Regions from separate parts of the Homo sapiens genome. Here all the other regions are linked to region 1. Evidence: fine-mapped expression QTL. A gene starts in region 1. Each other region holds a variant in brackets. All regions are shown on one strand. Distances are from middle to middle.

Region 1 (8,000 bases):
CAGCACTGAATACTCATTGAATAATCAATAGAGGCCCCATTCTCCACATTTTTTTACTCTTTTCAAAACCCTATGGGGGAAAAAAGCCTACAGCATAACTGAGCAATGCACCTAGTGGGTGACTAACATGGCAAGTTAAGACTTTGTGGCCAAGCACCAATACCATGATAGCCTCTGGCTAAAATAATTTAGCGCATTCAACAAATTTACCAAGTGCCTACCATGTGCCAAGCAACTGTTCAACCCACGTTCTCTGATCCTGGACTGCTCATTTTCCCTCACTCCAATCACAATGCAGTTAGGGAACAAGCTATGCCTGACTGCAAGCAATTCTCTTCAAGAGGAGAGACCTCACCTGAAGACAAAACACCTGACACTACCATCTCAACTCAAGGTTTCTTTTTCCATTTCTCTTAGCACTTTCAGGCTTTCAGTAAACACTCCTGTGAGATGAAGAGTACACAGATTCAAAACACCCTCTTCAACCAACTTGGACCTGGGAGTAAAGGCTGATGTCTATTTATTGCCTTTATTAATTCACTGGGTGAAAATGAAAGTATTAATTAGCGATAAGATGAACAGGTTGCAAATCCAATAAAAATAAAACGGATGAAAATCACTTGGCGTACCAAAAATCAGCTATTCAGGGCTCGCTGGCTTTAAACCTGTTACCCTTGGGTTCAATTTAGAAACTTGGATTTGGAATTCTGGAAAGATACTGTTCAATATGGTATAAAAGCTACAACAGAGATTTTAAACAACTCGTTTAGTCCTCTGGCAACAAACGAGTCTTACCAACGGTTAGGGGATCTTGTGCACCACTAGCACATTTCTAAGAACACGAGCCTGAAACCTGTGTAAGAGGGCAGCCGTTAGCAGGGCTGGGGAGAAAGCCTGGACTTCGCAAGCGGTAGCCCTGAGTCCTGGCCTGATTTCTGTCCTAACGGCTTCTTCTCAGAAGGGAATGTTTGGACACTGGACAGGGGCTTTCTAAGGCCCCTTCCGTATCTAAGACCAAAGAGCCCTATGATTCAGACAGCTGGAAACAATGAAGTAACTGCTTCTTGTTACAACATTTGATGACCAAGGTAAAGCTACTACTCAAAGTCCCATGGAAGTAGACTTTTGAAAAGTGATTTCAGTCGGTGTTTTTTAAAAAACTGTGATAAAATACACATTAAAAATTACCATTTTAAAGTAACTATTTTAATCCCCAGAGACAAGTGGAGGCACCACTGGATTAAATTTTCTAAGTGACCATCTGTAATGAGGCTTTAAGCATTCTACAGATCGTTGTTCACTGACTATCACCCAGTATTGTGTCGTTCTCAACCAGGGTAGAAAGGACAGAATCCTAAAGTTTAGTGTAAAAATAAACCACAGCAAGAGACACTCTGGAGGGAGGAAATCCTCAGATTACTGACTGCCTCGGGAAATCTATTTAAGGCTGCACGCAGAAGCGCAGGGAGGAGGCTTTATTACTTTTGTTTGTTAAGAAACTCATTTCCCCTGGGCACCTGTTTTCTCCAGCAGGTACTACGGTTGCACAACTTCAGAGACAGTGCCACAGGAACCTAACAGCCCTTGAGGACTGATTAACTTGCTTGTCCCACCCCGATCGTCAAAACTCCTTTTCATTTCTTTTATTGAAAGAAAAGTGACTTTTCCACTTTAAAAGAATCAGAAACTGCTTTCCAAAAGACACAGCTGCTTTGTGAATGTAGCACCAGGGGCAGCAAGGTAAACCGCAACTTCATCAGCTGGTAACGACATTACCAGGGCCAGGCCTTCTTAAAGTAACTTATTTCACATTACCTCTCACATATTTCTGCAAAACCATTTAACCCCATCTCATCACTTACGAGAAAAACACTATACACATCCCTGAATTTCAGTGAATTAAGAAATATTAATTAAAACCAGTCACTTCTGAAATGCACGGTGAAATCTTATTTAAGATTTCTGAGAGCAAGTACCCCAACGACTTCACAGATGAGGAAACGGTAGCTATCCAACCTTTTAAAACCTTAAAGCAGCACTGTGTTCCCCCAGAATTTTCAGTTTAAGAAAAAAGAGGGGAACGTAAAGCCTCCACGGGAAGAGAATTCTGCTTAATTTAACCACTTCTGCAGTAATTTAGATCCAAGATAAACACAGCCGTCACTAATTTTGCTGAAGCGGGGCCAGCTACAAGCCTTAAAGCAAACCCAGAAGCTGGAGAGCCGGCCTCCATCCCACACAGCTGCCGGGGCCTTCCAGTCCCGCCGGGGCGCTTGCTCCTCGGCTGAGCTCGTCCGCAGCGCGGCCCTCGGCTACTGGCGAGGCTGTGCGGAACCAGAAGGTCGACCGCGCCCGGGCATTCCCCGCGCGCCTCTGACCCCAGCTCGGCTCCCCGGAAGCCGCCTGGGCGACTTCGCGGCCTAATACCCGGCTCTGCGAAATCGCTCGCGCCTCCGGCCCGGCCTGGAGGGCCCCGCACCATCCGCGCGCGCGCGCGCTCGCACAGGATCCGGCCAACAGGCGCCGGGACCCTTGGAGCCCGCCTTGTTAGAAACTTGCTACGCGCGCCGCCGCACATGCGCCCTAGGCCCCTCCGGACGCAGGCGCCACCGACCTCGCTTCCGCCCCGCGCCCCCCGGCTGCCCCGCCGCGACTCCGGGCCGCGAGCGCTGCCGCACAGGCGCCCTAGGCCCCTCGGGGCACAGGCGCCGTCGATCCCGCTTCCGCCCCGCGATCCCGGCACGCCCCACGTCCCCCGCACCTCAGACCCGCTTTCCCCGACTCCCACTGGACAGCCGGGGAAAATGGCGCCTTAAAGCGTTCGCACCCACCTTGCCGAAATGCGCGGCCCAGTGCACGGGCGTCCAGCCATAGAAGGAGTCCTCAGAGGCCAGGTGGGCGTGGGGTGTCTGCTGCAGCAGCGAGCAGAGCGTGGCCAGGTCCCCGTCGCGGCAGGCGCGGTGCAGCGGGAAACGGAGCGAGAGCAGCTCCTCGCTGGAGAAGCCCGCCTCTACGCCCGCGCCCGCTCCCGCCGCCGACATGGTCCGTCACCGGAGAGCGCGGGGCTCGCTGGCCTAGAGGACGCGTCGGGGAGGACTCGAGAAGCCGCCGCCGCAGCACAAAGGAACGAGACTAGCGCCGCGGTCGCGTCCCACAGGCTGCCGAGCGGAGCGCGCACAGAGGGGGCGGGGCGGGGCCTGGAGCGGCCGGGCTGGGGGCGGGGCCTGGCCCAGAGGACGCCTTGTGCAGCCGGGCAGGGGTCGGGGCCTGGAGCCGCGGACCTCTGGAGCCGCCGGGCAGGGGGCGGGGCTTGAGCCGGAGGCCGCCTGGAGCAGCCGGGCGGAGGGCGGGGCTTGGAGCTGCGGACGCCTGGAGCGGCCGGTAGGTGGCGGGGTCTAGCCTAGAGGATGCCTGGAGCAGCCGGGTAGGGAGCGGAGCCTGGACCAGAGGACGCCAGCAGCAGCCGATTAGGAGGCGGGGCATGGGGCTGTCGACGTCTGGAGCAGCCGGGCATTGGGCTTGGGCTAGAGGACGCCTGGGGCGGTGGGCGCCTGGAGTAGCCAGGCAGAGGGCGGGGCCTGGCTTGGGTCCACGCCTGGGGCGGCCGGGGGCGGGGCCTGGCTGGAATTGACGCGTGGAGCTCCGGTGGAGGGGGCGGGGCCTGGCTGGGCCGCTGCCTACAGCGGCTTCCGGGGCTTGGAGGTCACGGGGCTCGGAGGTCACGGGGCTCGGAGGTCACGGGGCTGGCTGTGTGGGGGGCTCAGGGGCGTAGAGTGGCCAAGCAGCGGTCTGAGCGGGTCCCGGGGCCTCCGGCGCGGTGGGTCTCGGCTGCGCCCCGGGTGCGGACCATGATGTTTCCAGCCTGGGAGCCGGTCCGGGCGGGGAATCCCGGCTGCCGGGGGCGCGGGTTGAGGCTCTGCGGGCCCGCGCCCAGAGCGGGTGGGAGTCACGGGTCTCCCGGAGGCCCAGTAGCGCGCGGTGAAGTTGTCCAGTAAAAATTTATGGAGCGCCTACGGGGAGCAGGGATTCTCGTTAAAATCTGGGAATCAGCAAGCCCTAGTTCCTTACAGAGCAGGACAGATTCCTCGGTTTTGTCCGAGGGACGCCTTCTTCGGAACCGAGTGCGGTGGGCTAGGACTATACGTTTGCAAGTTTAAGAGATAAGCGAGAAGACCAGACAGAGCAAACAATAAAAGGCTTTTTGTTGAGAACTGTATAAATGTAAGGGAGTACCAAATCCCCTATTTTGAATGACAGTATCACGGACTTTATTACATATGTAATTTTATTCTGATTATGAAAGCATCAGTAATTTCACTATTGAGGAATAACCACAATGTTTATGAATATTTCCTTTGCTTCTAAATATGCGGTCTTTTTAAATCATGTATTTTATTTCATTTGTATATATAGTTTTTCGCTGTGTAAACTTCCTTTTTGCAAAATTCTACGTCACAAATTGAACAAGGCAATTAGATGTCTAGGGAAGTACTGATGCACGAGAAAGCATATTGCAGCATTGGTTAATAAAACGAAAAAATAGAAACCTAAGATTTAACAAAGGGAAGTTGTTAACTAGTGGTGTAAACACTCAACACAGACATGTCTTCATACAGCAAACATTTGTTGAGTACAATGCTGAATGAAACACATTGAGAAACACTCTATAGTGGGGAAGTAGCAAATATTTCAATTCAGTGAGCAATTGCTAATGAATGGAAAATATGACACATAGAATCTATCTTCTCCCAGGGAGTTTGTAATCTGTTAGTGAAGCAGGAAAGAATAATCAAGCAATACTTTTTTGTTTGGACCAAAAGGGTGAGAATAGACTATAAACTCATTTCAGGTTTTGTTTACTCTAGAACGTAATCATTTTTCTTCTCACATGCCATGTTGATTTTAATCTAATCTCTTTAAAATATATCCCCCTGATTTCCATCTTTCTTAGGAGAGAGGTGTCCCATTTTGCGAAAGGACGTGAGTGTATCTTGTCCTCCATGTAATGAAAGGGAGGGATTACTTGCTAGGCTGCATTCTGGGAATGGTGAAACAGAGATGGTGGTAAGTCAAGGAATTTGTCCAAGGGCAAACTGCATGCCTGTGGCAGAGCTTAGAATAATATCCAGACCTAGGTTCCAACCCACTGTTAGATTTTTTTTAACTTTGGAATTTATTTTGCATAGAGTATTAAGGGCTAGGAAGATAAAATAGGTTATAGTGATAGGGTACTTCGTGTACGTCTTTCCTCACTTCAGATGACTGGGTTTTTTAAAGGATTATTTAGACTATATACATATTTATTTAGCTGTACAGGAGTAGACTGACATATATACGTGGTGATGGATCCCCAAGACAGATCCTGTAACTGTGGCAGGAGGATTGTGGATAGGATGGTGTCTACTGACTATTCCCAATGCCAGTGATCTAATTGGTTGGTCACCCAGATTTTGCTCAACTCTGATAATTGTCAGATGCATTCCAACTAGAACTACTCCATCTTAAATGGGGCTGGGTAAGATGAGGCTGAGACCTATTGGGCTGCATTCCCAGATAGTTAAGGCATTCTAAGTCACAGGATGAGATAGGAGGTCAGCACAAGATACAGGTCATGAAGACCTTGCTGATAAACAGGTTGCAGTAAAGAAGCCAGCTAAAACCCACCAAAACCAAGATGGTGACGAGAGTGACCTCTGGTCATCCTCACTGCTACACTCCCACCAGCGCCATGACAGTTTATAAATGCCATGGCAACATCAGGAAGTTACCCTATGTGGTCTAAAAATGGTAGACATGAATAATCCACCCCTTGTTTAGCATATAATCAAGAAATAACCATAAAAATGGGCAACCAGCAGCCCTCGGGGCTGCTCTGCCTAAGGAGTAGCCATTGTTTTATTCCTTTACTTTCCTAATAAACTTGCTTTCACTTTACTCTGTGGCCTCACCCTCAATTCTTTCTTGAGTGAGATCCAAGAACCCTGCCTCTCCTGTGGTCTGGATTGGGACCCCTTTCCTGTAACAATCATTACCAATCTCAGATTTCCTTTGAGACTCTCATTTTTTAAAAGCTCCAAAGAGAAGAAGAGTAGATTCATAACATCTTTTTCATCTGATGAAGCAACCATACACAAGCCAACTTAGGCATTTGAAGATACAATCCAAATCCATGAAAGAAAACAGGAAAACTCAAAACTTAACATATTAAGATTGCCTTTAGACTGGAATTTTTTTTTTTTTCAAAAAAGGATTGCATTGTATGAGAAATTGTGGAAGTGGGGTAGGGCTCAGTTGTGTGAATGGCACAGTGATTCAGTGTCCATACGTGTGACAGACATTGATGGGCATCTCTTGAGTGTCGTTATTACACCAGGAGCAGTGCGCCCTGAGGGACGTGGGGTTGGAGAGCAAGGTAGGCCCCAGTTGATGTTCCATATTAAGCATGCCATGCTAAGGAGTGGCTTTTTACTTTCAAAAAGTTTGGGAACCAATGAGGGGTTTTGTTGTGCCATTTAAGGGAGGGAGTGATGACTTGGGATGGAGGGGTGGGGGGACCCGGGTCAGACTTGCAGCTTGGCTATGAGGATGGAGATCAGGGAGCCCACTGTGACAACACCTTCAGGACTCAACGTGGGCCTGCAAGCCTTGCTGTTTTCTCCTCGGCCCCTTCTCCATTCCTATCCACATCCACTACGCTGGCAAATCCATCTTTTGAGAGGGCAAATCTGCTTAAAAATTGATGTAGGAACAGTTTCCAAAACTTGTCATTCAGATACCACCTGCATGTGGATTTTTTTTTTTTTAGACAGGATCTCACTCTTGTCACCCAGGCTGGAGTACAGTGGTACAGTCATGGCTCACTGCACCCTTGACCTCCTGGGCTCAAGGGATCCTCCTGCTTTGGCCTCCGAAAGCCCAAAGCACTGGGATTACAGGTGTGAGCCATGGCTCCTGGCCATATGTGGACTTTTATATCTACATAGGATTGATATTTTTTTCTTAAAACTGGTTCACTTTTTTAAACTTAGCCACTTCATTCACATCCTCTCATTAATAAACCATTAGTGAGTTTGTGGTGCTGGTTACATTCTCTCCCTACCCATTTAAACAAATAGATATCAAAATAGAGTTTGATCTATAAACCTTCCAAATTGGCTCCTGCCATTCGAGGTTTTCAGACCACACCTGGGAAAATGCTCCCAGCAAGCAAAGTCCAAGATCAGACCCTTGGCTGGGTAATGTCCTTACAGCCAGGGCCGACTGCCTGTCTTTGGACTTCTTGTTATGTCACTGCCCAGGGCTGTCCAGAGCATGTCCTTGACACTGGGGCTACCTCTGCCTTGAAGGCTGCTCCCTGCCCTGTCCCAGAGTCCACTCCTTCTGATCTGGGTTGAATTGTGTCCCCCCCAAATTCATGTGAAGTCCTAACCCCCAGAACTAAGAATGTGGCCTTATTTGGAAATAGGGTCATTGCAGATATAACTAGTTGACATGAGGTCACACTGAAGTAGGGTGGGCCCCCAATCCCATATAACTGGTGTCCTTATAAAAAGGCGACATTTGTCATGCCTGTAATCCCAGCACTTTGGGAGGCCGAGGTGGGCATATCACCTGAGGTCGCGAGTTTGAGACCAGCCTGACCAGCATGGAGAAACCCCGTCTCTACTGAAAAAAAAAAAAAAATACAAAATTAGCCTGGTGTGCTGGCACATGCCTGTAATCCCAGGTACTCGGAAGGCTGGGGCAGGAGAATTGTTTGAACCCGGGAGGCAGAGGTTGCGGTGAGCTGAGATCGCACCACTGCACTCCAGCCTGGGCCACAAGAACAAAACTCTGTCTCAAAAAAAATAAAAAATAAAAATAAAGGGACAGTTGAACACAGACACAGGGGAAGACGACCACGTGAAGATGGAGGCAGAGATGGGGGTGATGCTTCTACAAGCCAAGGAATCCCAAAGACGACGGCAAATCACGAGAAGCCATGGAGAGGCCTGGAGCAG
Region 2 (8,000 bases), 24 kb before region 1:
CATTACCTGGAACTATTCTTTGTTCTGCTGTAGAGCACATTTTACTCAACTTTTTAAGGTCCTGTTAAAACCAAATTGTTTTTCTATTATGAGGTGACCTTTCGCGGGACCCGCCAGGGCCCAGATTCCAGCAGTGCAGAGGGTTGGGATGACTCCAGGCAGCAGGAAGCAGCAGCGACAAAGGACAGAGAAGGGAACTGAGTGCTCTGGAAAGACCGGGGGGGACTGGGGGTTTGGCTCAAATAATACAAAAGCGGCTTGTGATCAAGTGTGCCAGTCTTCGTTTTGCTTCCCACTGGAGTGTCCACAACTGTGCTGAGGACAACTCAGGCCCATGAGGTTTGCTCAAATGGAGACTTTTAACAGTGGAAAACGCAGACACTGTCTGGACTGGAAGTGTAATTCAGACTGTATTTCAAGACGTCACATCTTCAGGGATCAAGAAAAAACAATCACTCCTTATTTGAACACAATTAGGTAGGTGTGTTCTATCATCCTGGCCACATTTTTATAAACAAATATACTGCAAATTTGAAAACAGTGAGGACGTCAGGAGTTAAAGTGCTATAATATGTAACTAAACTAGAAGGAACTAAATTACAAATTTACTCCTGGGAGGCATTTTATTTCCTCTCAAGTTTCAAGCAATAAACATCTATCATTTAACAAACCAGCTGGTCATATCTGCCCTCCTTTACCAAGTCTTTAACCCTGCTCAACACGAACAGCTAAGGACAAAAGGCAGAGATCCTTTATCCAGGTTAAATCCACTCTGGGAAAGTGTTAAAACTTTCCACCGGTAATTTTACCTTTAAATCATCATGTTGTAGATACTTTTTTCTGTAAGGTGTTTTTATATTCAATACCTTCACAGTATGAATGAGATTCTAAGATCAGTAATATGCCTATGTGATTAAGACCGAGCTGTGAAGTCAGTTTGACACTTGAGATCTGCTGTCACCACAGCCTACTTCTGGGGCAAATGTCCCAATTGTGAAATTGAAGTTATTGGGTCAGTTTTTAAACTCACTGTGTTCCCCTGCTTCTTCCCCACGACTCTAGAGCTCCATCCAAAACAATTATCAATCAGCAAAATCAAGTTTTCACTCATGGAAGGGACTGGCATTCTTTTCTAACCAAGATCATTGAAAAACGACCACAGTTTCCAAGGAGTACATATAAAAATAATTGTATTGGGTTATTCCTGAAGATTAACCAAGAACGCTAGCAAACCTGAACTGAGTTTTATACAGTGGTGCAGCTGGAGTCCTGAAGCCCATGCATCATACCATCAGAGCAAATGATTGATAAAAACAACAACAAAAAAATTAAAGACTGATACTTCCTTGCACCATCTAAAATGAACAAAATCCCACACTGAGGAAAGTATTATCCCAAGATACTTTCCATCAAAACAGACTGCTTAAGTAACTGTGGATTTTATTTCACACTCCAGAGTTCATGTCCACACCTATTATGTCTTACGTTCTGACTAAACTGCATTTGACACAGATGCAAATAATTTTATGAAAGTATGACTTCTTGTAGCATAACTTCCTTCCAAGACAGTTAATATTCAAGCAATACAAAAGGCCAAGTCTTTCTTCTTCACTTAAGATCTTTTACATCAACAGCTTCCAAAAGAAAATTCCTCCAATTTAAAATACTTGAAAGTAGTTTACTAAAAGCAGACACTACTTTTTGTGGGGAAGAATGGTTAACATTCAGACTCAGGATTCCAAAGTGTTTTGGCTTTTTCTTTTTCTTTTTTAAAGGGTGAATTTTACAGGGATCTCCTTAAGAGGTGACTTAGCCAGAAAACTTTCTGGAAGTAATTACTTTTGTAAATATAAATTCCACACTAAAAGCATCAATATTTGTAACTCTTAAATTCTAGGAAAACAGAACGCACTAAGTTTTATTGGTAAGATACAAGTTACGCAGCCAAGATATTATCCCTGGCACCTGTAACTTTTTTTGTTTTTAAAGCCAAACAAAACAAAAAACCCAGCTTAAACTCTTCTAAATATTTTTATATGTGAAGTTACTCAAAGTATTTTATATACATGTGTTAAATGAGGAAAAAAGAATTTATCATTTCTTTTACTCTGGCATGAGAACCAAAAACCTAATAAAATAATTCAGATTAAGCAAAACTTAAAACACACATTTAAACAAAATCAAAACAAGATGCCAGAAATTACAACGAAAACTAAAGCAACATATCTTTAATTCAAAACTAAAAAACTGGTCAGTTAATATGGAAATAATTATATATCTATTGAAACCAAGAACAATTTCATGTAGAACATTCAGGTAATTGGCAGAAAAAAAAATCCTGTTTTAATGACCAAGAATGACTCCCAATACCCGACATCAGCACTCTCAGTATGTAATGGTAAAAGGGGGGCAAAAAATCACCTTTTCCCATAGGGAAACGAGTGGTGGGAGTGCAGGTGAGCTAAAGATGCCCATCTATGCTCACACAGACACAAAAAAATATAAACACACTCTTGTGACGAGTGTGGCAAATCTAAGGACTGTCAACTACATAAAAGACAGAACCATCAGAAGTTCCAGGAAATTAGTAAAGTCATGGTCAGTATACAAATTAGGAAAACCAAGGATGAGCAGCTTTGAAGTAATGTGCATCTTGGCTGAAATATTTCAACTGTGATAATCACAGAAACATCAGTCATGTACTGTGTACCTGCAACAGTGGCTCAACCTGTTAGGTCTACGTATTACCTGCAACACTTAAGCAGAAGTGCCGGCTCCAACCATATTTTTGTCTAAATTAGCACCCTCGGGCTTGGGACCAGGAATGTATAGTTTGGGAAGGCTGCATGGTGAGTTTAATGTGCAAAATGTGAACTTCTAATCACTGGTCAACCAAAACAAATCCTCCTTCTAAAGGAAGAAAATAAAACCCCCAAAGTCAGCAGGACTCTTTAAACCAAATTTATGTAGTTAACGAGGATTAGGAAACAAGGAATCCTCAGAAATGCTTTTCAGGGTAATTAAGCAATGTGGTATTGGCCAATTCAACTGACCTTAGAAACTCTGAGACTAGTTTTACGAACTCTTCTAGGTGCATTTTGAGTCCAATTAGCATGTTAAGTGATCTCTTTTTAAAAATACTAAACAGAATTTAAGATTTATCAGCAATAAGAGAAAATGAAGCATAAATCATTTTTCAAGGACATTTAGACTATACAGTGACATACAGGGACAGACATGTACAATTCGTGCATGAGGGCATGAGGCCACTCTACAATACTAACCAGGCTTTAATTAAAGGAAATGACAAAGGATTTTTTTAAAAAGTGGATGCTCTTAAAAAGGCGTTGAAACTACATTAGAAAAAATATATTAAAACATGGTACAAATAAATGACAATGCTGAATACATCACCATTAAAAAAGACCATTTTGAATTTTATGCAGATCTTCATGTCATGCTTATGATTTTAGCATCTTTCCAGAAATGCTTAACTCATAAAAATCTTGAATTTGATAAAACTGTTAAGTTCATACATTACTATAAAAAGTCTTATCACAGGAATTTTTATGGTGACAAGATATAGTTGTGAAGTACATAATACTGACATTTTATCAACTTTATAGGGAAAAAATGTTTCACTTGGACACACTCATTAAATAAGGTAGAAAAGATGATGTTGGTTCATGAAATTTAACCAAAATCTCTAGATTTTTAAGTGATTAACTGATAGTCACTCAGTTTTCCTTATGCTGTAACTTGCACGGTTGATTTTTTTAAACCAACGGGCAAAACTTTGTGCTTATACTCAGCAAATCTGAGCTCATAATCTGCTTCATTACTTCACACTCCCACCTCTCCCCCTAAGTTCACTAAATATGCCTGCCAAGCTATCACATTTACCTTCTTATTAAGACTTTTTTTTTTTTTTTTTTTTAAATAGAGACAAGGTCTCACTATGTTGCCCAGGCTGGTCTCGAACTCCTGAGCTCAAGTAATCCTCCTGCCTCAGCCTCCCAAAGTGCTGGGATTACAGGTATGAGCCATGACAACTGGCCTAAGACATCTTATATATAGATATAGATGATTTTCCTATAGGAAAGGGAGATGTTTTCAACTTCAAGAGTGACTGGCTGACTGCTTATTTGCAAACTCAAACCTACCTTAAAAACAAAAAACAAAAAACCCAAAAAACGGCTAGGCACAGTGGCTCATGCCTGTAATCCCAGCACTTTGGGAGGCCGAGGCAGGTGGCTTACTGGAGGCCAGGAGTTCAAGACCAGCCTGGCCAACATGGTGAAGCCCCTTCTCTACTAAAAATACAAATTAGCCCAGTGTGATAGCATGCACCTGTAATCCCAGCTACTTGGGAGGCTGAGACAGGAGAATTGCTTTAACTTGGGAGCCGGAGGTTGCAGTGAGCCGAGATCACAGCATTGCACTCCAGCCTGGGTGACAGAGCAAAAAAAAAAAAAAAAAAAATGGTGGGAGAATACTTACAACGAAAATAACTTACCTTAGGGACTTAAATCCTCAAGATCAAATTATACACCAGATCTTGCTGTGATAAGTCAACACACATGTGAGGTACAGAGACCACTGAGGTCAAATCATAGTACAGAAATAGTACAGAAAACATTCACCTTCCCGAATGTGAAAATGTTTTACTGCCAGACCATCAGCAATTTTTATAAGCCCAGGAACATTTACAAGAAGCAAATTAAAAAAAAAAAAAAATTCAGGCACAGTGGCAGATTTTCTTTAATAGATATATTTCAAACAGATACAACAAATTAAAAAATCTAATTCATGGCAGGTAAACATGGGTGCTCAAAAAGTTCCACATAGACATTTACACTTGGGCCATCAGTATTTCCCTCACATTCCCTTTTGTTA[A/AGT]GTCCCATCTTCGCAGTGGCAGTACAGGAGAAATCTCCACCGTCACCGCACAATCCACCAGGCGCATTACCACCTGAAGTGAAGGTCTCATCTCGAAGGTGCGCTCAGCCATAAAAAGAAAACATATTACAGAAAGGAAAAATAAGTGTGCTCTTCCCACCCGCAAAGCGGTCTCACCTTCAGTTCTAGCTTTCTTTACTCCAAAGTCTTCTGAGTCTTCCAAGCATCTCTTTCGATTTGTTCCCACACTAATATGATTAGGAAATACATTCTGATGACCCCCATTTAAGATGCCATTGTTATAGAAATGGTTCAGATGACAATTCTGGAGGTTCAAGAGAAACTGGGCACACTCTTGGAAACCCTGGGTTTGTGCAATGTCTGCTGCTGTCAGGCCACTGGCATTTCTCAGGCTGTACAACACAAAAACACTGAATTACACCCCATCCGCGTGCTAACCTGGTCTCTGCTCCTGCTGAACTGACTAGCTATCTGAAGGTGGTATGAAAGAGTAAACAAATTCATAGCAAATCTTCATTAAAGAAGTAGTTAATCAATCTAGCTCTGTAACTAACTTCTCTTATATACATTTGATTTCTAAGCAAGATTTGGGAGATAAACTAAATATGCTAAACTTCTAAAAAAGGCATCTTCCTATTTAACTTCTCAAAATCATGTTTTATGTTAGTCTGAAGAATCTAAATTTACGCTAACTTCAGACTTGAAACTGAATTCTATATTATATGCACTTAATTTTAATACCCATTCCTTTAGCGTGAATAAAATCATAACAAACAACATGTACTGAGATTGTCCATGGCATTCATAACTGTCTTCCTAAAAACAAAGCAATGGCTCACCAACGAGCCAGCCTTCATGCTTACATGTGACACTGTAAGTGGAAGTTTAGAAGGATGTCCTGACATTAAAAAGTAGCCTATCATCAGATTCCAGAGCTGAACAGCTGTGTTTTTCTGTCAGATTTTGATTGTTTTGGCCTTGCTTGGGAAAACCTGCAGGAGTATTGTATTTTTGGCATTGTAGAGCATTTGAGTAGTTGGTTCCTTTAAAAAGGCTTTGAATACTGTCCTAAAAACTCATCCCTACCACTCACAAGAACCAAAGTTTTACCTGGCTAATAGTACTAAAAAGGAAAGGTCTGAGACCTCTACAGTAGCTAAAACTCAGATTCAAGTAGGAAGTGATGGCAGAGTAAGTGAAAGAGCTGAATAAAATAGAGTAAGTTGAACTTGTAAACCTTTAGACACTGAATTAAAACTGAGGGATCAAAAGTAACTCCATGTTGAAGTTCCCCTGGAAGACAAGAATGTACACTGCTCTGTGAAATAAACCTGTAAAAAAGCAGACATCCTGTTAGCTGCAGGTTGATAAACAAACGGGAGAAGTACTTAACAGCAAAGACAGCTTCCATACCTGTTCAGCAAGCTACACTACATCCACAGCAAAAGCATGATGAAATCAAGGCCTTGTGCTGTGTCACTCAAACAACCACTCCAGAACCCTGATGCCTTTCTTGGGGTTACTGTTAATGCAAAAAAAAAAAAAAAAAAAAAAAACCCCGCATTTGAGAGTGAAAACTACAGAATTAGGGACAAATAATATTTTCTTATTTATAAGGACTGACAATAGCCTTGTATTCGTTATTTGCAGACATCATAGAGCTCTGACCTTGGAAATGAGAAGTGTGCATGGACACTAGCTAAGCGTCTCTACTTTTTAAAGCATAAGATAAATGCATTACACCTTTTGAAAAAAGACCCAAATCCTATCTGATCAGAGATAAAAGAGAATTGAGAATCTCAGAAACCAACAAAATTCTTAAAAATATAAGGCGGCTATGTGCAGGACTATTACAGACTAAAGTCACTATTTTTATTAGCCTTATTAAGACTGCATGGCTATGAATGGCCATGAGTATTTTCTAGTATTGCATAATATTTTTATTTTGATATATGAATTAAATGAAAAGGAAGCACCAAAGTTTGGGCAGATTGTATTACATTAATTATACTTTGTACAAAATCAGATCACCTTGTTATTGAAATAGAAAATATACTAATATTACGTGACAGCTTCATCATATAGCTGGACTTTTTTTTAATGGTATATTTCACTTTCAAAAGATATCAGAAGTGCAGATGACCTGGGAGGGTCTATTCTGTCAAGAATGTGAACAGAAAAATAAGTTGCCACATGAAAATTCAAAAACTCTTCAAGGAGAACATAAGTTTACAAACTGATTATTTCTATAGATAAGCATAGACTTGCTCTCCAAAATCAAGAAACAGAGAAATGAGAAGCTACCACTTAGTATTAGGACAAATAAAAATATGAAATAAAGCCCACAGTAAAGATTACTCTTTAGTGGACCAGAGAATAAAAAAGAGCAAACAGATTTTTGAAATGGCACTTAGAATCATAAATACCATGCTGGGCACGGTGGCTCACGCCTGTAATCCCAGCACTTTGGGAGGCCAAAGCGGGTGGATCACCTGAGGTCAGGAGCTTTGAGACCAGCTTGGCTTACATGATGAAACCCTGGCTCTACTAAAAATACAAAAAATTAGCGGAGTGTGGTGGTGGCACATGCCTATAGTCCCTGCTACTTGGGAGGCTGAGGCAGGAGAATCGCTTGAACCTGGGAGGCAGAGGCTGCAGTGAGCCGAGATCACACCACTGCACTCCAGCCTGGGCAACAGAGCAAGATTCTATCTCTAAATAAATAAATAAATACCAATTCGCTGAGGGAAGTTTAGATGCTCAAAGGGCATGCCAACATTCTGAAATTGTTAAAAGAACATCCAAAGCACATTCGATTCCTTTATTCCTTATTCAGAAGCTGAAGACTACACTGAATTTGGGTTAGAACAGCAAGTTTACTGATCTTCCAAAGAAATATAACCTTATAGAAAAATAATCAACAAAATAGTGCCAACATATGGAGATTCCTGGAGACTGAAGTTTCAGAGTGTCAGCCTACACATAGGTAGCACTGGTAAGCTCTCCCACTTCACTTTTTCCCCTGCCAAAGGTAGTTAAATACGTGCTTGTCCTCTACTTAGACCAACCAAATTTCCATGTGG
Region 3 (8,000 bases), 41 kb before region 1:
GGCGGAGCATGCCAATGCCGTTCCTTACTGGTGTGTATATTACTGTTTTTGTCCTTTTCATGCAGCCTGCGGAGTGTACCTCTATAGCTGTCATTTCACTCCTGTGTTTTCTCGGCCTTGGGCGAGGATCCCATGCTGCTGGTAATGAAAGCTGCCTGTTCCCTCGGTTGTTTTCACAGTCCCTCCTTTCTCTTCCAGAGAGAGGTTTTGTTTTGTTTTGTTTTGTTTGAGACAGGATCTCACTCTGTCACCTAGGCTGGAGTGCAGTGGCATGATCTTGGCTCCCTGCAACCCTGCCTCCCAGGCTCCCATCCTCCCTGCAACCCATCGTCCCACCTGTGAAGGGAAAATAAATCTTGGGCCCCCAAACTCAAGCCAAAGGGAAAAGTCAAGCTGGGAACTGGGTCATGCAAACCTGCCTCCCCTTTTGGTCCCTAAATAAGATGCTGCAAGATGAAAAACTGCACACCTCCCCTATATTTTGTCCACAAGGAAATTCCTAGTGAGCTCCGCAATCTTTACTGTAAGGTGTTTCTGTTAAGATTTCACCACAGCAATGCAAATCGATAGCTCATCTTTACAGGTGCAGTCAACCCCTGCCCGCCAGACACAAATGCAAACCTGATTGTTCCCCTGCCCCCTTTGTCTAAGTCATCTTGTGTAAAAATAATGCAGATTCAATGAGCCAAACGCATGACTATTTTTCTCTACCCGCCTCTTAGATGAAAATTGTGTACTTGTCATTATCTCACCCTTTCCCCTTTAAATTTGGAGCCCTCAAAATCATCTTCGGAGAAAGGTACAGACTGTCTCCCGAGTGTTCGTCCTTAACTTTGGCGAGTAAACCTCCTAAAATGATTGAGACTTGTCTTGTCATTTTTCTCAATTGATACACCTCAGTCTCCCAAGTAGCTGGGACTACAGGCATGCGCCACCAAGCCCAGCTAATTTTTGTATTTTTTGTAGAGACAGGGTCTCACGTTGTTGCCCAGGCTGGTCTTGAACCCCTGAGCTCAAACAACCTGCCCGCCCCGGCCTCCCAAAGTGCTGGGATTACAGGCGTGAGCCACTACGCCTAGCCAAGAGAATTTTAAAACCATTGAGGAAATAGTGCCATTGTTGTGAATCAGAGACTTGATGTGCTATTTCATGTAGTGGTTCCTGTCGTTTTGCTTGCAAAATTGGCTTCAATTATCTTGAATTATATGAACTGTCAGAAAAGCCCTGCGGCAGATGATGGTAACGAAAAGACATCCTTTAGCAGACAGGGAATAGGACTGATTCACTGATGCATCTGAGTTGCAATTTTTTTAGCTGCTTCTAAAAATCTTGTAATTAAATTCACTGGTGAGAGCACAGTAGCCTTCATAAATGGGAAAACAGAAACATCGAAGTTGTTCTCAAACCATCCTGGAATCTTAAAGTTCAGGGGGCACCTGGCAGAGGGGAGCCACAGAAAGACGGCAGGGAAGGGAGGGTTAAGGCGAGGCCGGGATAAGCCAAGCAGGGCTGTTCTGGTTTATCTTTCTTACTTTGTTCTTAAGAAAACTTGCTGAATGTAGTTGGCTTCAGATCTTCCTGTTTTAAAAAAAACGCAGTAAGATGAAAAACCTGATGTGTCCTCTGCCCTTCCCCGTCCCTCCCGCCTCTCCCTGCGGGGGGTGAGCACTCCTCAGAGTGCCTGGTGGAGAGGCCCCTGCCCTCCCCTGCACGGAGCTGGGGTGGCCTTAGGCCAACAACCATCAAAGAACTCAGGCCCTTAGTTCAGCGACCCGGGGGGAACTGGGTCCAGTCACCAGCCATGTGCGTGAGCTTGGATGCAGAGGCTCCAGGGGAGCTTTCAGATGAGACTGCAGCCCTGGCTGACACTGCACTGTGATCTCCTGAGAACGTGAGCCCAAGGAAGGGGCCCCTCCCCGGGTGGGACGTCCTGCCTCACAGCTCAACGCTCTGCTGCTGCTGTCAGTGCTGTGTTTTGAGGGGGATGCCCAGTTCTGCACTGACCAGCTCTAACCCTGGGGACACTGCAGCCCTGGTCATGGCCTGGGGACCCCTTCAAGGTGACCTTCCAGCACAGGTACTGGGCGAGTACCCACCCCTCAGCCTCTGCCAGACTTTGCCCAAGAGGCACATCCCTCTTTGCTGCACTGTGGACCTGCCTGCCCAGGTACTGGGGCACTTGGTCATCTGGTGGCTGTGACCATTACTGGGATGAGGCCTGAACTCCAGGTGGAGACCCCTTTCCCAAGCCTGCACTTCCCGCAGCCCCTCCCTGAGCCCTGGGACCTCCCAGAGTCCTCTTGACCTGTGTGGCTCTGCTTGCACAGGTTAGAAACTTCTAGTTCAGCTTCCCTGGCTGAGCCCTGCCGGTTTTTCTGCTGAATGCCCAGAGAATTGGGGGACCCATGGCCCCCCGCCCCGCCTGGCCACGGGGCTCGACAACACAGCAGCTGTAGGGCTTTTCACCTGGCCCTCACCTGTGGGGCCTCCGCCTCGTCCTCAGCTCTCCCTGCGGATTGACCACAAAGTGGTCACTCAGAGTCCCCTCGGGGATGGTTTCAGAGCTTCACCGGCCTCCCTTCCCCACCCTGCAAACCTTCAAAGCCCGAGCCCACGCCTCGCACGTGCTATTCCCAACAGAGAAAAATGTGACCCCATCCACGTCCTGCCCCAGACACCCAGGAGCTCCAGTCCTCTCCCCTTTCCGCGGACTGGAAGCTTCTCCAGGGCTTGAGATGTCCACCTTCCCAGCGATTCCTGCCCGGGAGACTCCGATTCCGACCCCATTCTGTCCACATGTCCCCTTTCCAGCCCCATCTCCCCCTGCCCATTTCCTGAGACCTCTCTAAGGACCCTAGGCTCCTGAGCGGACCCCAGCAGGGCCCCTGAGCTCCATGATTCTGCACTGCCTGGGCCTTCCCGCCAGAGCCGACCCTGGCCCCCAACAGGAGGCCGAGCTGCCCTCAGGGGCCTCTTCACGGTGGGCAGGCGCCCCCGACCCCGGCCTCTCCTCCCCAGTGGCCTCTCCGCCCCTCCCCTCCCCCATGGCCTCTCCTACGCTCCCTCCGCCCTCTCCCATGGCCTCTGATCCTCCTCCCTCCCCCCTCGCCAAGCGCCTGCTCTTCCATCCATTCTCCACATCGCACATCACACACAAGACATTCACACACATGCATATATTCACACCCACACAAGTCACACATATATTCACACACACACGTCACACGACATTCACACACATGCATACATTCACACACATCCACACCCACACAAGTCACACACACATAACATTCACACACGCACATTCATCCACACATGTACAAGTGACACATTCACACACCTGCATTCACACACATCCAGATACACAAGTCACATTCACACACATGCCCACACCTCGACACAACACCCACATGCAACATTCACACACATCCACACGTGCACAATAGCCACACACGTTCACACATGCACACATATAACATGTTTCACATACACTACCACCCATGCACATCAGCCACACATATAAAACAGTCACACCTGCACACACACAGTCACAAACGTCACACACATATAGCATTCACACATGCACAGCAGCCACATTTACACACATCCACATGCATCACACATTCATACACATCTGCACACACGTCACACAAATCAACATTCATACGTGCGCACACATCATACACATCCACACACATCACGTACATTCACACATAAACATTCACACATTCACACACACCAGATTACCACTCACATCCAATACTCAACGCTTCCCTTCACATTCTCACACATTTGCACACTCACACATTGCCAACGACACACTTCCCTCCACATTCCCCCTACATTCCCACACTGACACGCTCTCACACACTCCCAGTCCTCGCACACATTTGCACACTCACATCCATACATGGACACACATCCTCATGCTCGCTCACTCACATGCATTTGCAAACACTGATACACATCCTCACACGCACACTCGCACACTCAGGGTCTCCCTGGCTGCAGCTGTGCCCGGGCTCACTGTTACCGTTGCTCAGTGCAGACTCTTGGGGTGGTGTCCACCTCCAGCCCCCAGCTCCAGCCGTGCCCTGCCGCAGCCCCCGCTACCCTCCCACCGCCCCGGGACCCCTCACCCGCCCCGGCCCATCCCAACCACGGCCTCGCCCCAACCTTGGCTGCGGTTCCCCAAGCAGAGCCGCGCCAGAACCGCCCGGCTCACCCCCCTCTCCCCGCCCCTGCGCCTCTCTCCCGGTTCCCGCCCTCCTGATGGTTCGTCCCTGCACCCGCGCCGGCGCCCCGCCCCCGGTTCCCGCCCTCCCGAGGGCTCCTCCCTTCCACCCGCTGCCTGTTTCTTGGCTCCCCCTTTCCGGGAAACTCTTCAATGTTTCCCATGTTCTGTCTCCAAATTATTCTCCCGTTTTCTTCTCCTTAATAAAACCCCGAAAATCCAACCTATGGAA[A/G]AGTCAAAAAGGGTAATTCAATGAATACCCAGTCTACATTTTCCAGTATTTATCACTAGTTGCTTAGATCTCATCATTCAAAACATTCCAGCAGTTCTCTCACTGTGGCCTGCAGAACCCCAGGGTCCCCAGGACCCCATTTCAGGGGGTCCCCAAAATCAAAACGGTCTCATTACCGAGATGTGATTTGCCTTTTTCAGTGTTGACTTCGGCACTGAGGGTTCAAAAGAAATGGTGGGTAAAGCTACTAGCACCTTAGCAAAAACTGCCCCGGCCTGATCACCTTCATATTCTTCACTGCCGTGCAGTCAAAAAAAAGAAAAAAACCCAATTTCACTTAAGAATGCCCTCAATGCTGTAAACATGAGTAAATTTTGACAGCACACGTTCTCTGTGATGTAAAGGGAAGTGTGCATGAAGGATTTGTTGTGTACAGCTGTCTCCAGGAAAAGCACGGCTCTGGCTGATTGTGCGATAAGTGTATCCAGTGACTTTTTCAGAAACGTCATTTTCATTTGAAATAATGATTGACAAGCTATGTGATTAAAAAAAAAATAACCAGGTTGTAATGCAGTGGCTCAAGCCTGTAATCCCCGCACTTTAGGAGGCCAAAGTGGGCGGATTGCTTGAGGTCAGGAGTTTGAGACAACCTGGGTAAAATAGTGAGACCCCATCCCCCCAAAAAAAAAAAAAATTGCCGGGCATGGTGGTGCACGACTGGAGTCCCAGCTACCTCCAAGGCTGAGTCAGGAGGATCCCTTGAGCCCAGGAAGTCAAGGCTGTAAGGAGCCAAAATCGCATCACTGCACTCCAGCTTGTGCGACAGAGTGAGACCCCGTCTCAATTTAAAAAAACCAAAAAATTAACCAAGTGAGTCTTCTACTTCAAGGAAAACTGACAGTATTTGTGTCCAATGATAAAATTTGAGTTTTTCAGCAAAAATCAGGATGTTGTAAAACTTGTATCCAGTACCATGAGCTTGACAACTTCCAACTTTTGACTTTCATGAGATTATTGGTGATCAATGTTTTATTTTTTTGAGACAGAGTCTTGCTCTGTTGCCCAGGTTGGAATGCAGTGGCGTGATCTCGGCTCACTGCAACCTCTGCCTCCCAGGTTCAAGCGATTCTCCTGCCTCAGCCTCCCAAGTAGCTGGGATTACAGGTGCGTGCCACCACACCCAGCTATTTTTTTTTTTTTGTATTTTTAGTAGAGATGGGGTTTCACCTTGTTAGCCAGCATGGTCTCTATCTCCTGACCTCATGATCCACCTGCCTCGGCCTCCCAAAGTGCTGGGATTACGGGCGTGAGCCACCGCACCTGGCTGGTTATCAATGTTTTAATATTAATGAAAAGTTTCAACATTTGAAAGACTTGCAGAACTCAATTAAAAAATATTTCCCAAGTAATGCATAAAAAATTATGCATGGGTTAAAGGTCCATTCTAAGTGAAAGATGGACTCTACAGGAACGATACAAGAAGCTCACTGATGTGGATCCTGATTCAACATTGCAACTAGCCTTTAAGAAACTACTGTTACTGAATGGAAGGTCTTGACTGCGAGTTGTCCAGGTTCCTGGTGCAGCTGAATAAAGAATGGAACCAAACACACAAAGCAACAAAAGAAGTAAACAACGAAAGAAGCAAAAAAAGCGCAGATTTATTGTAGCAAAAGTACCCTCCAGAGTGGGAGCCAACTTGAGCCAGGGTCAAGAGTGCCCCCTCTAGGGTTTTTACTAAGCTAAAAGAATTTGGTAACACCCCTAGGTGACCTTTAGAGGCCTCCAATTGGCTGCACCCTATGAAAGATTAGCCTGCAACCAATCAGAGGCTGAAGTGGAGACTGTCTTGTTATCACAGGTAGGAGGCTGTGGTCTGAGTGCTGCCTAATCTTGCCTAGAACTGGCTGTACCTGCTGTTCTTTTGCTTATGCCTTAGCCCTTGGTTACCCTAACTTCCTATTCTCCTGCCCCACGACCACTACAGAGTTTGGGCATGGTATCAAGTACTCACAATTAACTGCAAAGACGATTCAAATATCCCTTTTTCCAATTACCTATCTGTGTAAGGCCAGATTTTCTCCACATACTTCAACCAAAAATTTATTTAGGTATTCTATCTCTGAGTAATGTTTTATAGTTTTCAGTGTAGAGGTCTTGAACATCTTTTGTTAAGATATTTTCATAGGTATGCCATGGTTTGGGTGTCACTGTAAATGGGCTTTATTTCATTTTCCAATTGTTTCTACTAGTACAAGAGAATGCATGCATGGGAAAGTATCTGCAGGCCAAAAAGGCTAAGACTCAGTGAGCTATTCTTGCAGTCAGTATAAACGTCAATTCTGGTGGACACAGAAATACCTAAGCTTATTCTCAATGTTAAAATGACAACCATATTTTTTAATAGAGCATTTTTTCTTCAAGTCCTGAAAAAAAAAACCCCAAAAAACTTGTCTCAAATAAATACAAAATACACAGACTAACGCACCTTCACATACCCACCACCCAGATTTAACATCGGCCTGCACCAGTTGTGTTTGATCCTTGTCTCCACTCACCAGGGATCATGGGCTCCACTCATATTTTTATGGTTTGAAGCAAATTCCAGGCATGAAAGCAATTCCATCATCACCATTTCCTTATGTATCACTAAATAAGAACTGAATATACTGGTGTAAATGACTCTAAACTAGAATATGACAAACTACTTCAATCATCCACTCAAGTGTGGATGTTGCCCTACTCTAGGTTCTATGCAACATTTTTGTTCCTAAGCAGTCATCTTCTGTCCAAAAATTCAAGACTAATCAAAAGTATGTTTACTGTGTTTTCAGAGATTCACAACGTTTTTCAGCAAATAATTAAGTCACTATAGAACATCTGGAATACCTTAGAAAACAGTCCAAACGGGATGGCATCAAGTTTCATCTCTCTTAAAAACTCAGTAGTGTGGGTGGCTTCTTGGATCAGTCTGAGGCCAAATCTCAGTTCTAAGCTTGATTACTAGTGTCTGCCATAGGATGGGAGGCGGTGGCCTGGACAGCGCCATGCATTCTCTTCCTGTTCTCACTGTAATTTTTGCAAAACTTCCAAAGCATAATGCTCCCTCATTGTGGTCTATTAAGTTTTTACAAGAATATGCATGATGCAGTGAATGTTTTAAATTGCATATGTAGGCATGCCAGAATGGCTATATTGGTGCTATTTATAACTGTAATTCATATTCCTAAAAGGCTTACATTAATTAACAGTTGCTAAAACCAAAGAAGTTTAGAACATTATGGTTGCTGTCTTTTATGAAAATAAGCACCCAGGCACAATACTGAACTGACATGCAATTCATCCTTCCTCCACAGAGGTTCAGTACCAACGGTGCCCATAAAACTAGAGTAGAAACTCAAAAATAGAAAAAACACCGTATGAAGAGTGTCAGAAGAGTCAAGTAAAATCTTATAAGCAAAATGAAACAATAGTAAACTTCTCTTCCCTTCCCATTCCTTCCACAGATATCCACACCCCGCCGGCCCCCAAGCC

Direction of the effects. Positions count from the first base shown, and alleles are read on the strand shown. Sizes are in standard deviations (SD) of each study's normalised expression. Not every link is listed here.
For the expression in whole blood of the gene that starts at base 3,176 in region 1, AGT is the low allele of the variant in region 2 and A is the other (small effect, 0.29 SD a copy in Lepik 2017).

What was found.
Region 2: its variant is fine-mapped to the expression of ANKRD10 in whole blood (TOPMed, PIP 0.98).
Region 3: its variant is fine-mapped to the expression of ANKRD10 in whole blood (TOPMed, PIP above 0.99).

Annotation. Positions count from the first base shown.
Region 1 is chr13:110,911,894-110,919,893 of GRCh38, forward strand. It overlaps ANKRD10 (ankyrin repeat domain 10), which reads right to left and starts at 3,176. Exons shown (of 6, transcript NM_017664.4): 1 at 2,832-3,176. The coding sequence starts at 3,041. RefSeq lists enhancers at 1,788-2,464, 2,188-2,317, 3,816-4,490 and silencers at 2,428-2,797, 3,068-3,727, 3,858-4,017.
Region 2 is chr13:110,887,955-110,895,954 of GRCh38, forward strand. ANKRD10 (ankyrin repeat domain 10) reads right to left here. Exons shown (of 6, transcript NM_017664.4): 4 at 5,074-5,309. Among named protein-coding and RNA genes, the nearest start is that of PRECSIT, 22 kb to the left of the region's middle. The variant A/AGT (reference allele first, on the strand shown) is at 4,897.
Region 3 is chr13:110,870,516-110,878,515 of GRCh38, forward strand. No RefSeq gene overlaps it. Among named protein-coding and RNA genes, the nearest start is that of PRECSIT, 4.2 kb to the left of the region's middle. RefSeq lists enhancers at 1-93, 2,339-3,216 and a silencer at 4,154-4,373. The variant A/G (reference allele first, on the strand shown) is at 4,467.